Regions from separate parts of the Homo sapiens genome. Here region 1 is linked to region 2. The links come from fine-mapping of genetic effects on gene expression. Tissue or cell type: whole blood. Region 2 holds a variant in brackets; the other region holds the start of a gene. All regions are shown on one strand. Distances are between the middles of the regions.

Region 1 (6,285 bases), 35 kb after region 2:
CATTCTTTGAAAACTGGAAGCATATGACCTACTTAAGTGTCTCCGGAATTATTCGAGTATAATTTGTAAATGCGAAACATCTCAATAAAACTTCAAGTGTTTTTATAAAAGAACTTAAAACAATAAAATACTTAGTTATTTGTTCATAACACTACAAAATAAATTACATTATCTAATGTAATCATGTCCAATCATACGTTCATAATTTCTGGTTCAAAAAATAATACATAAAATGAATCCTTTCTGTATCCAACTCCGCGTATTTACTGATCCTCTTAAGCCAATTCCAGAACTCTTTACATTAACAATTGCTGCTATAGAATCTCACTTTATTTGGGAGGCCAAAATTATAAATTTCACATCAATTACTTCCCTTACTTACCAGCCTTAGCAGCAAGAGACTTTGTAGTATTTAAAAAATTAAACTCCAACCTCGAAGAAAAAAATTAGTCAGCATTGAAAATATTTAACATAATACTACATACTAAGGTTTAAAAGCAATTAATTCCAAAAGTGTGGTTCTAAAAAAGTGTTTCTGCAATAGCAGGACTGGTTTGGTATATAGTCTACCAAGGTAACAACTTCTAAGGGAACAAACATGTTAAAAACGAGTCCCCTTATTTTATAAGCATACCTTGTGAGAGTAGCTCTTAAAGGTCAGTACAGAACATGATTTGGAGTAAGAGTGACTTGTAAGAACTTTGCGAACTTAATTTTCCAGAATGAAAGCCACCAATAACAGCCTGCCATTCTTTTCTGTTAAACAGCATAAAATTTCACCTTTTGAAAGTTCTGAACAAACAGAACAATTGAGACAACGAACCAAGAAACACCTAAAGTTCAGTCAGCATCAGGCCTTATTTTAGCCAAACTGATTTTGCAGTAAATTTTTCTATTAACTAGACTATTTAATTAAAAATTATTCCATTTTAAATAAGAATTATTCGATATTATCTGAGGATACATATTTTTTAACTGTATGAAAATAATATTTTTAAAAGGGCTAGGAGCCCGGCGAGGTGGCTTATTCCTGTAATCCCAGCACTTTGGGAGGCCGAAGCGGGTGGATAATCTAAGGTCAGGAGTTCGAGACCAGCCTGACCAATGTGGTGAAACCCCGTCTCTACTAAAAATACAAAATATTAGCCGCGCATGGTGGCGCGCACCTGTAATCCCAGCTACTCGGAGGGGTGTGGGGAGCTGAGGGAGGATGATTGCTTGAATCCGGGAGACGGAGGTTGCAGTGAACCGAGATCGCGCCACTGCGCTCCAGCCTGGGCAACAGGAGAGCCGTACCCCCGGCAAAAAAAAAAAAAAAAAAAGGGGTTAGGGACTTAACAATGTTGTCATCTTTATTTAAAATAGTGTGAAACTGTTAAGTAAATATACTTGCAAAATGCATAAAATATAAAGAAGCAGTTCTAATTTTTGAAAACCATTAGAGACCATAGACATTTGCAATGTAAAAGGCTGCAGCAAACCAATTTACAGTAAAAGTTGAAATAATATGAATTGTAAAAATATTTCTAAACTGACCATGATAAAATGAAAAACTCACAGGAAGACAACAGAACAATCAAGATGAACATAAAGTAATTCTTGAGCGTGGGGACAAGACTATGAAAGAAGTGAGAAATGTACATGCACTGGTCGCTGTGAGATGGGGAGAGACTGCTCCAACAGGGTAAATCTTAGAGACTCAAGAAGACTGACTACGTGATAAGTGACTCTCAGACGAGAAGCATTCACTGATGAAAACTCTGGCTTCCCTTTCCTTTGATGTTGCAACAGTTCTATTTTCCATTCTTTGTGAAACCTGGAGATTACTCTTCACAATTGTATTTTAACAATTCTGCTGACGCGGCAATCAGGTGGGCAAAGGGAAAGATCAGTGGCGAAGCCTGGGCAGCAAGGGATACTGGAAATAGACTATGAGAGAGATTGAGAGATTACAGTCAGCAGCTATGTGTCAGGAGGGATGAGGAAATCCGAGTTAGAAGCGCTGAGCAGTGGTGCGGCAGGAGGCAGGGAGGGTCCGGAGGAAAACAGTAAAAGGGGGCAGGAGTGGCAGAGCAAGCGTGTGACCCACAACCAAGGGAGGTAAACCACATGAGGAGCTGGTGGGGAGCAGACTGAGGCGCTGTGAGGGTGGTTAGGACAAGCCCGCCCTCCCACCCTACTTTTTCCTCCGGTGGAGAGGCAGCGACCAGTCACCTGGAGTGTGAGTTCCGGAGGGACTCGATCAGGCGCTGCTTCTGCTGCTGGAGGCTGGTGAGGCCACCGGGGGACCCAGCCGCGGAGGAGGAGGCGCTCTTGGTCAGGGGAAAAAGCCAGCTCATCCTCCTCGGGTCCACGGGCCGGAGGCCCTGGAAGGCTCTGGCCTGCTTCTCCCAGTGGCTCGGCCCGGCGGTTCTCCAGCGACAGAGGAGCGGGGTGGGACGTCCGTGGCCCAAGCGCTGGGGACCGCGTCTTCTCTAAGCCTGTCCTGCCTGCGCTCCCCGAGTTCTGGGGGACATGCTACGAACGGCGGGCGGCTGGAGAGGGAAACTTGCGGCCCGGAACAGGAGGTCCCACCTTCACGGCCCAGACGCCCAAACCGGCCAGCCAGGGAGCCTGGCCGCCCAGCGCTCCACCACCCGCGCCGCCGTCACTTGCGTGCCCCGCCCCCGGGGGCGCTCTCCGCCCCCTCTGCGTGTCGCGTCATCATCTAGCGCCCCCGTCAGGACGTGCGAAAAGCGACGGCGCAGCACGGTGCGGCGCAGCTCCTGCTCGCCTTTCCCTTCGCTGGGCGAGAGGTGTCTATGGGGCACCCGCTGCCGCCGCCGCTACCGCCACCGCCACCGCCACCGCCGCCGAGTGCTGTCTCTATGGCGAGGAGGAGGAGGAGGAGCGCGAGCTCAGCGACACAAGTAGATCTTGCATCCGCTGCAGCCTTACGGGGGGAGGGGCGGGTTAGGGAAGTAGAAAGGGGGCGGGGACGATGAACCTGAGAGGGTGCGCGATGGCGCCAGCTGGAGTGCGGCTGGCGGAGGAAGGAGCCTGGCGGCGGGTTGGGGGCTGGGTAACTGGGGCTGGGGGTTTGTCAAGGGGTTGGCGCGTAGTGATGACGCAAAGGCTTTGTACCTGGGGCTTCGCAGTGGGACGGAAATTGGGAGTGGAGGGCGGTGGCCTAGATCCTCACCTCTTCGTATTGTTTCACGCGGCAGTGCTTGGGAGTCAGTGTAGCTCCAGTCAGTGTTATCAGCACCTTCGCACTGGCGCTTTGCCAGGGAAGAGAGTTATCTATGGCTTGAATACCTCGGTGCCGTCCTCTCGTTTCTCTGGGAAACTGCAGTACGGAGATGCTTTCTCCAGTAATGAGAAGGCCTTTGGTGTCTCTTCGGGGCTTCTGGGACTGCAGTAGAGAGAGAGGTGGAGGAAAACAATGTTAGACTACAGGGTCTTTCCAAGTCTTTGTGTTTTTGTGCTTATGTGTGTGTGTGTGCCTATCGGGGTGGGAGAGTTATAAAGGAGGGGTGTCCTGGATCTCCTTTAGTTTCTCTACTTGGAGAATTGGAAGTTACATTTGTGACTCTTCAGAGTTTAGAAGACAGTCATAAGACCCTCTTTTTACTCTTGTTTTTTTTTTTTCCAATTTGTATGAAAAATGCAGAAGGATTTGAAATTTCCCTGCCCAAGAATCAACAGGAACTCTGTTTATAGACCAGAAATGTGACATCTATCTTTGGTAACCATGCAATATGCTCTAAGTTTTAGACGTTCTATTGTGTTCTTTTTCCGTTCTGCAACTGCGAACATTCAGATAATTTTCATGGCCGTTACTTTTTTCTCAGAGCATTTACAAACATTTTTGACCCCTCTAGTCTAGTTAGAATAAACGCCGGTAAAGTAGATCTTGTTATCAAGTCGGATTTTGGTTGTTTTATTAATGAGGAATAAAAATAAACACCATCTTTGCCATGGTAACATCTGATCTTGTCACATGTAAATAAGTAATTTTTCATTTTTTGTCTGGAAATGGATGGCTTTATAAAGTTTTATGCAGAGTAGTTGAACTCAGATAAATAATTAGTGGAAAGTTATAAAATATGATTAGTATGTATGTGTAAAAAAGCTATTTTAAAATAACTGAAATTAGGACCAGGAAATCTGTACTGTAGTCCTTTTTTTCCTATAGACTAGCTGTGTGACCTTAAGTTACTTTCTAAACTTTGATTTTTTTTTTTTATGAGTCAAGAACTTTGAATAAATAACTTCTTAGGTTCCTGCTGGATCAATTATTCTGTGATTCAGATTTGATATATCTGGTCTTCATATTGTTTTTTTATTTTGACAGGTACATAAATAAAGGATAAAATATTTTATGAAACAAATCTTCAATCAAGTATAACATTTTGATGCTTGGCATCTAGACTCCCTTGTGCCCTCACTATGCCAGCGGCAACTGTAGATCATAGCCAAAGAATTTGTGAAGTTTGGGCTTGCAACTTGGATGAAGAGATGAAGAAAATTCGTCAAGTTATCCGAAAATATAATTACGTTGCTATGGTATGCCCACAAGCAGATCTTTAAAACGCTTCATATAAAGGAGGAAAAGGAAATTTTAAAGTCTTGAATTCAACCCTTTTGGTTGATATTTTTAGGGATTAATTTCACCATGAAAAGTAAAATTTGTCACTGCCCTCCAGCCAAAATCCATCAGGAATACACCTGTGATTTGACAGGTTGGGTTTATCCCTCATTGCAGTGAGGGAAAACGCACTGGAATTCATGGGAACCATGGGCCGTTTGAATAAGAGTTAGGAAGGATTTGGGCTCGTGTCAGGTGGTCTTAGGGGAAGGTAAGGGAAGCAGAGCTTTACTGTGGATTGGATGTGTTCGGGAAGCTGGGGTAATTCTGTGATTGGGTATCTTACTAAGTCTTAAATGAGAGACTAGAATGAGGTTAAAGCTGCAGAGAAGGAACAGTCATTCATTTAGCCAGGATGGAGATACTTGGTCATTTTGTGGTTTGACATTTTTATTTTTTTGTCCTTGTTCAGACATGATTACAGAGTGGCCTTATTTGAGGTTGAACTTTTGTGAAATTGTGTTCAACAGGAGAACATTAGGGCGTGGCTATGAGTGCCAGGTCTGCTCCTAGCAACACCAAAGCCTAGCTGGTAGTACCACATGAGCTCCCAGAAGCTAGGGTGCTCTTTCTCAAACAAAAAAATCAGATGTGCCAGTGAAACGTTGTTGGTCTGCAATTTGTTTTCATAATTAACACTGGAGTTCTGTGAATATACTGTGTTACTAAGCAACTCTGCTTTTGCACGTGCTGTTTGGTCTGCCTAGATTGTCTATCCAGTTAATGATTTTTCTTCTTTACCATTATACTGTCTATATCTGTTAGCTACCCTACTGTTTTCTACATCCACTGGATTATTATTAGCTCCATAAACCAAGTGTTTTAATCCTTTCTCTCCCAACACCTAGCATAACACATATAGTATTCAATAAAGTGGCTGTTGAATTGCACTGAATTTAGAGAAATATTGATTTCTTTACTATTTCATAGTGACTTGATAGGTAGTTTTTATTCTTAGCTAGCCCTAGTTTGAATTCTAATACTAAACCGATGTATCTTTGTCTCAGTATTTTTAATAAAAATAAACAAATGCATTACTTTGGGGAGGAGCAAGTTGATTGGTTAAAATATGACTGTTTCTTTGTAGATGACATACTATTTGATAAAGGTGTACTTACCCATGATTAGAACTAAAATTGTTTTCTTAACCAATGGAAATTCATAGTGATCATTGATTTCTCAGATGATAAAGAGTGGCAACATAGAGAAGTGATAACATCCTACAAGAGTGAGTAGGTGGCATGCAATTCTTGACAGCATGCTTTCTGTGGACTATAGAGAGAATATTGTTTAAGCCAGAGAAATTAGGAAGCTAATGATGTTTTTCTTAGGGTTTTGGTGTTGAGAAAAACCTTGTGTCAGAGAAGCAATTGGAAAGTACAGGGCGTTTTCCCCTCTTTTGAACCAGTTCTTCAAGAAACTTGGTTTTAGCATTGGAATACTGTGAGCATCATTTCATGTATCCTTTGGGAGACAGGAATTTATGATTTTCCCCCCTTTCTTGGTTATAGAGTAAGTATTTGGTTAAATTTATCACATGTATCTCGTATAGTAACTTTTTGGATATATTTAAGGAAAGGTTATTAAGTTTATAGAGTTTTATGGTTCTAAAAAGTGATGTTCTTTCTAGTTAAAATATACTTTGTAATTGAATA
Region 2 (5,000 bases):
TCCTAAAATTCATACGGAATCTCAAGAGACCCCAAATAGCCAAAACAATCTTAAAGATGATTAATATTTCCTCATGTCAAGTTACTAACAAAGTTACAGTAATCAAAACTGTGGTACTGGCATAAAAACATAAAGAACAATGGAACAGAATAGACAGCCCAGAAATAAACCCTCACACATATGGCCAAATGATTTTCAACCAGGGAGCCCAGTCCAGTTAATGGGGAAAGGAATCTTTTCAACAAATGGTGCTGGAAAAAACTGGATTATCGACAGGCAAAGGAAAAAAGTTGGACCCTTACCTTACTTAAATACAAAATTGATTCCAAATGGATCAAAGACCTAAATCTAGGCACTAAAATGATTTTTTAATAATAGCTATCCTGCTTGACGTGGTGGCTCATGCCTGTAATCCCAGCACTGTGGGAGCCTGAGGCAAGCAGATGGCTTGAGCCTGGGAGTTCATGACCAGGCTGGGCAACATAGCGAGACCCCGTCTCTACAAAAAATACAAAAATTAGCCAGGTGTGGTGGCATGCACCTGTAGCCTTGGCTACTTGGGAGGATGAATTGGGAGGATCGCTTGAGCCTGGGAGGTCAAGGCTGCAGTGAGCTGTAACTGCAGCACTGCACTCCAGCCTGGGTGACAGAGTAAGAAAAAAAAAATAATGGCCATGCTAATGCATGTGGGGTAGTATCTCTTTGTGACTCATAAATAAAAATGAACTGTAATGCACCATTTTCTCATTGCCCTTGCCAAAACTGGTTATCTATCTTCACAAATATGGCTCACATGGATGTTTTATTTGGCTTTTTAAAAAATTACAGTAAAGTTGAACATATTTTCCAAAGTTTCCAGTTATTTATTCATTAAATATTTATTGAGTACCTATTATGTGCCAACCACTGAACCAGATATTAGGTGTACAGTAGAAATGAAACAGAACAGATTCCTCCATCACGGAACCAATGGTCTAATGAAGTGGTTTCCATATGTAAGAGCGCAGAAGATTCATCATCCCCAGAAAATTTTGACTGAGAACATCTAGAAAGAAGCCTAGGAATCATTGTTTTGTGTGTGTGTGTGTGTGTGTCTTTTTTTTAAGTGTTTGAAGAGTCACTTCCAGCAATTCTTATATGAATGTTTAAGGATCAGAATAACTGTTAAAGCAGAATCTTTATTGGACATTTATATTTCTCCTTTTGTCAGTTTCCTGTTGTTTCCTTTTCCAATAGACCACTGGCATTAGTATTTGTTGTATAGGCTAAAAATATCTGTACCCTTTTTTTAACTTCAATTTTGATTTCATGATTTTTTAATATATCTGAGTTTTCAATCTGTAGAGGTAAATATGTCGAGTTTTTCCTTTATGCTCATATCTGTTTTATTATGCTAAGAAAGGCTTTTCCCACCATAATCTTAAAGAAAAAATCCTAGAAGCTAGTTGACGTTTTATGGTTTCCGCTGAAGCAGTTTATCTGTAATAAACTTTCTGTGTATTGTATGATACAATGATCTAACCTTTTTCTAAATGGATACTAAATAACCAATTTTATAATTTATTGAATCCTCAATTTTTTCCAACTGATTATTCACATACACAAGTCTATTTTTGAACTACATAGTCTGTTCCATAGAAATAATTTTCTCTTCCTATAAAACTACTATACTGTTTTAAATAATGAGGATTTACAGTGTATTCTGATACTGGGAAAGGGAGTTTTTTTCATTTTTTCTTTTTGTTCAAGCTCTTCCTGACTACCCATCTGAAAAATAAAGTTTCAGATGAACTTTAGAATAAACTGTTAAGATAAAAAAAATATTCTTGGCATTTTGATAAGAACTGTATTCAATTTCTAAGTTATTTTGGGGAGAATGAAATCTTTTTAATAATGGATCTTTCATTCAATGAATATTCTATGCTGCTCTAAATAGTCTTAGAAAATACAAAACTCAGCTCTTCTTTTATGGCATTCAATAAAGTTTCCTAACTTACTTCATTGGGTTTACTTCTAAGTACTTTACAATTTTGTTCCTATGGTAAATGAGTTGTTTTCTGTACTTCATTTTGCAGTAGTAATTGCTGGAGCAAACAGGAAAAAATTTCTCAGTTCTCTAGAATTTTTGATTGTTTATTTTTGGTAAACAACTGTTTCATTTCTTCTTTTTATGTTATACCACTTTTTTTTGGTCTTGCAGTACTCAAAACCTCCCAAACAACGTTAAACAGCAGTGATCATGAGGCATTACTCTCTTATTCCTAACATTAATGGGATCCTAGAAATGTGTAGTAATTGTGAGGTTTACTGCTGGTTTCTAGTATTCTTTTTCAAATAAGAAATTTCTATTTTTAGTTTACTAAGAGTTTGTATAAAGAATGATGTTGAGTACTATGAAAGCTTCTTCAACATTTACTAAGGTCCAGTATATATCTAACAGTACTTCAGTTGAGTCTCACAGATTTTCTGTGAAGGAGGACTGCTTAGGTTACACTCCTAACTAATGTTTCTACTTGTATGACCTCAAGAAATTTATTTAATCTCCCTGTGCCTCAGTTTCCCTATCTGTAAAATGTAAAATGGGAAAAAGTAACAATACCTATTTCATAGGATTTGGTGTAATAATGGCCCAATATACGTAAATAGCTTCATGCGGTGCAAGACATATTAATTGCTCAA[T/C]GTTAGCTATTATTTCTTTATTCTGACAAATGACCGTATTATCTGAAATTCATTATAAATTTATATTCTCCTTTACCATCTTTTTTGCTGTTGTTGGTTTATGTCTATTTTATGTTTTATTTCATTGACTTTACCCAAAGTTCCTAATTTTACAGGAAACAGAATATTAACTATGAGGTTGTTATTGGTATGATACAAAGATTATGTCCTCTGGTTCCTTTTCAAAGATTCCTTTTTTTTCAGAAATATAGGTTGAATTTTATAAAATTCTTTTGATTTTCACATAACTGGATTTCTAGCATAAAACTTATTTGTAGCAGATAATACTATATATTTTTCATATATTATTCTTTTTAATTTGCGAACTTTTCATTTAAGGTATTTGTAGATAAGCTTACAAGTGAGTCGAAAGTTTTTGTTGTTATTGCTAGGTTTCACTACAAGTGTTACAATGGTTTCATAACTTACCCAGAAAAGTTATGTGTCAGGGCCTGTCATAATTTTCTGTTTTAGAAACAAATACGCTCTTATATGAGCACAAATAATGTATGATGCCTCATCACTGAGAGCTGTTCATCCACGTTTAAAGGTATCATGTCTTATAAGGTCAGATACCTCATAAATGGTTTCTGATGATAATGAAAGTGAGATCAGGACTCATGCACATAAGATTAAAAAAAAAATCTATGGCAAAGGGAAAAAAATAAACAGTCTTACCTCACTAAGTTCATGCTGCCTTTGCATCTTCTTTTCGAAAGTGGACTTCATCTGTGTAAGTAATTCATACTAAAAGAGAAAATGAAAAGGTTGTTTTATTCTATTTTTAAATTATGTAAATTTCTTCAAAATTATCACTAACTCACCTTATCTAAAACAGTTTGTCTTTTGGCTTCCAAGCTGGGCTCCAAAAGGAGATTTTTTCCTGTAAGATAAATCTCTAGTTTACTTCTAGGTAAAGATGAGATTTTTTTCAGGAAATGTGCGCTCAGGAGAGGGAAAACATACTTGCTAGTTCCTCAATACTTTTTACTAAGTCATCTTTGTCGGTAATAATTTGTTTTAGTTGAGGCAAAGTCAGAAACTGTTCTAGTAATACCTCCTCTTGTTCATTCATATCTGTGAGTTGTGACACACTAGAAACACAAAAGAAAAAATGTCAATAAATATCAGACATCGAGTTTTTCTCCATGACAACTATTTACAATTTTTCAGCTTTAGTTAACTGATAGGGTTCTAAATAATTTTTACATATACACCTAAGGCTGCCAGTTTTAACCTTAAAATCAAATAAAACATCAACCACAATGGAACATAGAGCAGTCTGTAATATATTCTTGACAGAATCTGTAAAAGTAAATTTTGGTCCAATGGATATATCGATATATCTACTTTCTTTAAAAATCACAACCGTGGGGAAGTGTTCACAGTTATACAGTGACCTGAAATTAAAAATAAAGTCAACTTAACTCAGGTAAAGAACAATGTATGAAACTAAGGAGCTTATTCAGCTTAGGTTTCTTAAAATAGGACAGCAGTAATATAGTTAAGTATTTTTTTCTTGTTCTTAATTCTGTTTAACTTAATTGCTTGAGAATATCACTTATTTCTTAAATTTCCCTGATAGGAACCAGACTTACTGATATGTAAAATTTAAGCTATTTATTTCTTCCAAGCATAATGTTGAACACACTAGTACTATAGTAAATTCAGACAAGTACAAGTTCACAGACAAGGTAGCATGAGAAGAATTTCTTCCTAGTCATTTCATTGTATGTATTGATAAGAGGGAAACAGAGCTGAAAAGAGGCCAGAGTAGTTACTGTAACATTTTGGCTTTTTCCTCTAGTCAGCTTTAGACCAGGTCAGTGCATGATTCCAAGGATGTGTTGGCCAAAATGTAGCCAGTAAAATCTCCCAAGACTCTACAAGATAAACAGTCTCTGCTAGTGTATAATGTCAGTTACTGTAGGACCAGTAAGACACGGCACATAAGCAGTCACAACAACTCCGTTTTAACCTCTGTGACTATTTAGCTTACAGATGTGTGGCTGTCACAGTAAGAGTTATAGATATGTTTATGTGTGTTTATGTATATGTGTGTACAGATATTCATAAAATATTTAAAGAAAAGAAATAATGGAGGGCTAAACCAAAAACAAAAATGGGTATCTGTAGGGTGAAAGAACTAGGTGGAGCAGATATGGATGGAAGCAAAACTTTTCTGAACGTATCTTAGTTTTGACTATGGAGCCATATAAAAACGTTGGATAATTTAAAAATAAAGAAGAAAAGAAAAAGCAGTCTTTAAAATTCAGGGAAAA

The links. PIP is the estimated chance that this variant, and not a neighbour inherited with it, causes the effect.
Region 1: CNOT7 starts here. The variant in region 2 is fine-mapped to the expression of CNOT7 in whole blood (INTERVAL, PIP 0.98).

The regions. Positions count from the first base shown.
Region 1 is chr8:17,243,299-17,249,583 of GRCh38, reverse strand. It overlaps CNOT7 (CCR4-NOT transcription complex subunit 7), which reads left to right and starts at 2,727. Exons shown (of 7, transcript NM_013354.7): 1 at 2,727-2,909; 2 at 4,337-4,548. The coding sequence starts at 4,432. VPS37A (VPS37A subunit of ESCRT-I) reads right to left here and starts at 2,626. Exons shown (of 12, transcript NM_152415.3): 1 at 2,215-2,626. The coding sequence starts at 2,339. RefSeq lists an enhancer at 2,130-2,978.
Region 2 is chr8:17,278,840-17,283,839 of GRCh38, reverse strand. It overlaps VPS37A (VPS37A subunit of ESCRT-I), which reads right to left. Exons shown (of 12, transcript NM_152415.3): 7 at 3,685-3,812; 8 at 3,543-3,601; 9 at 3,397-3,465. Among named protein-coding and RNA genes, the nearest start is that of VPS37A, 34 kb to the right of the region's middle. The variant T/C (reference allele first, on the strand shown) is at 2,680.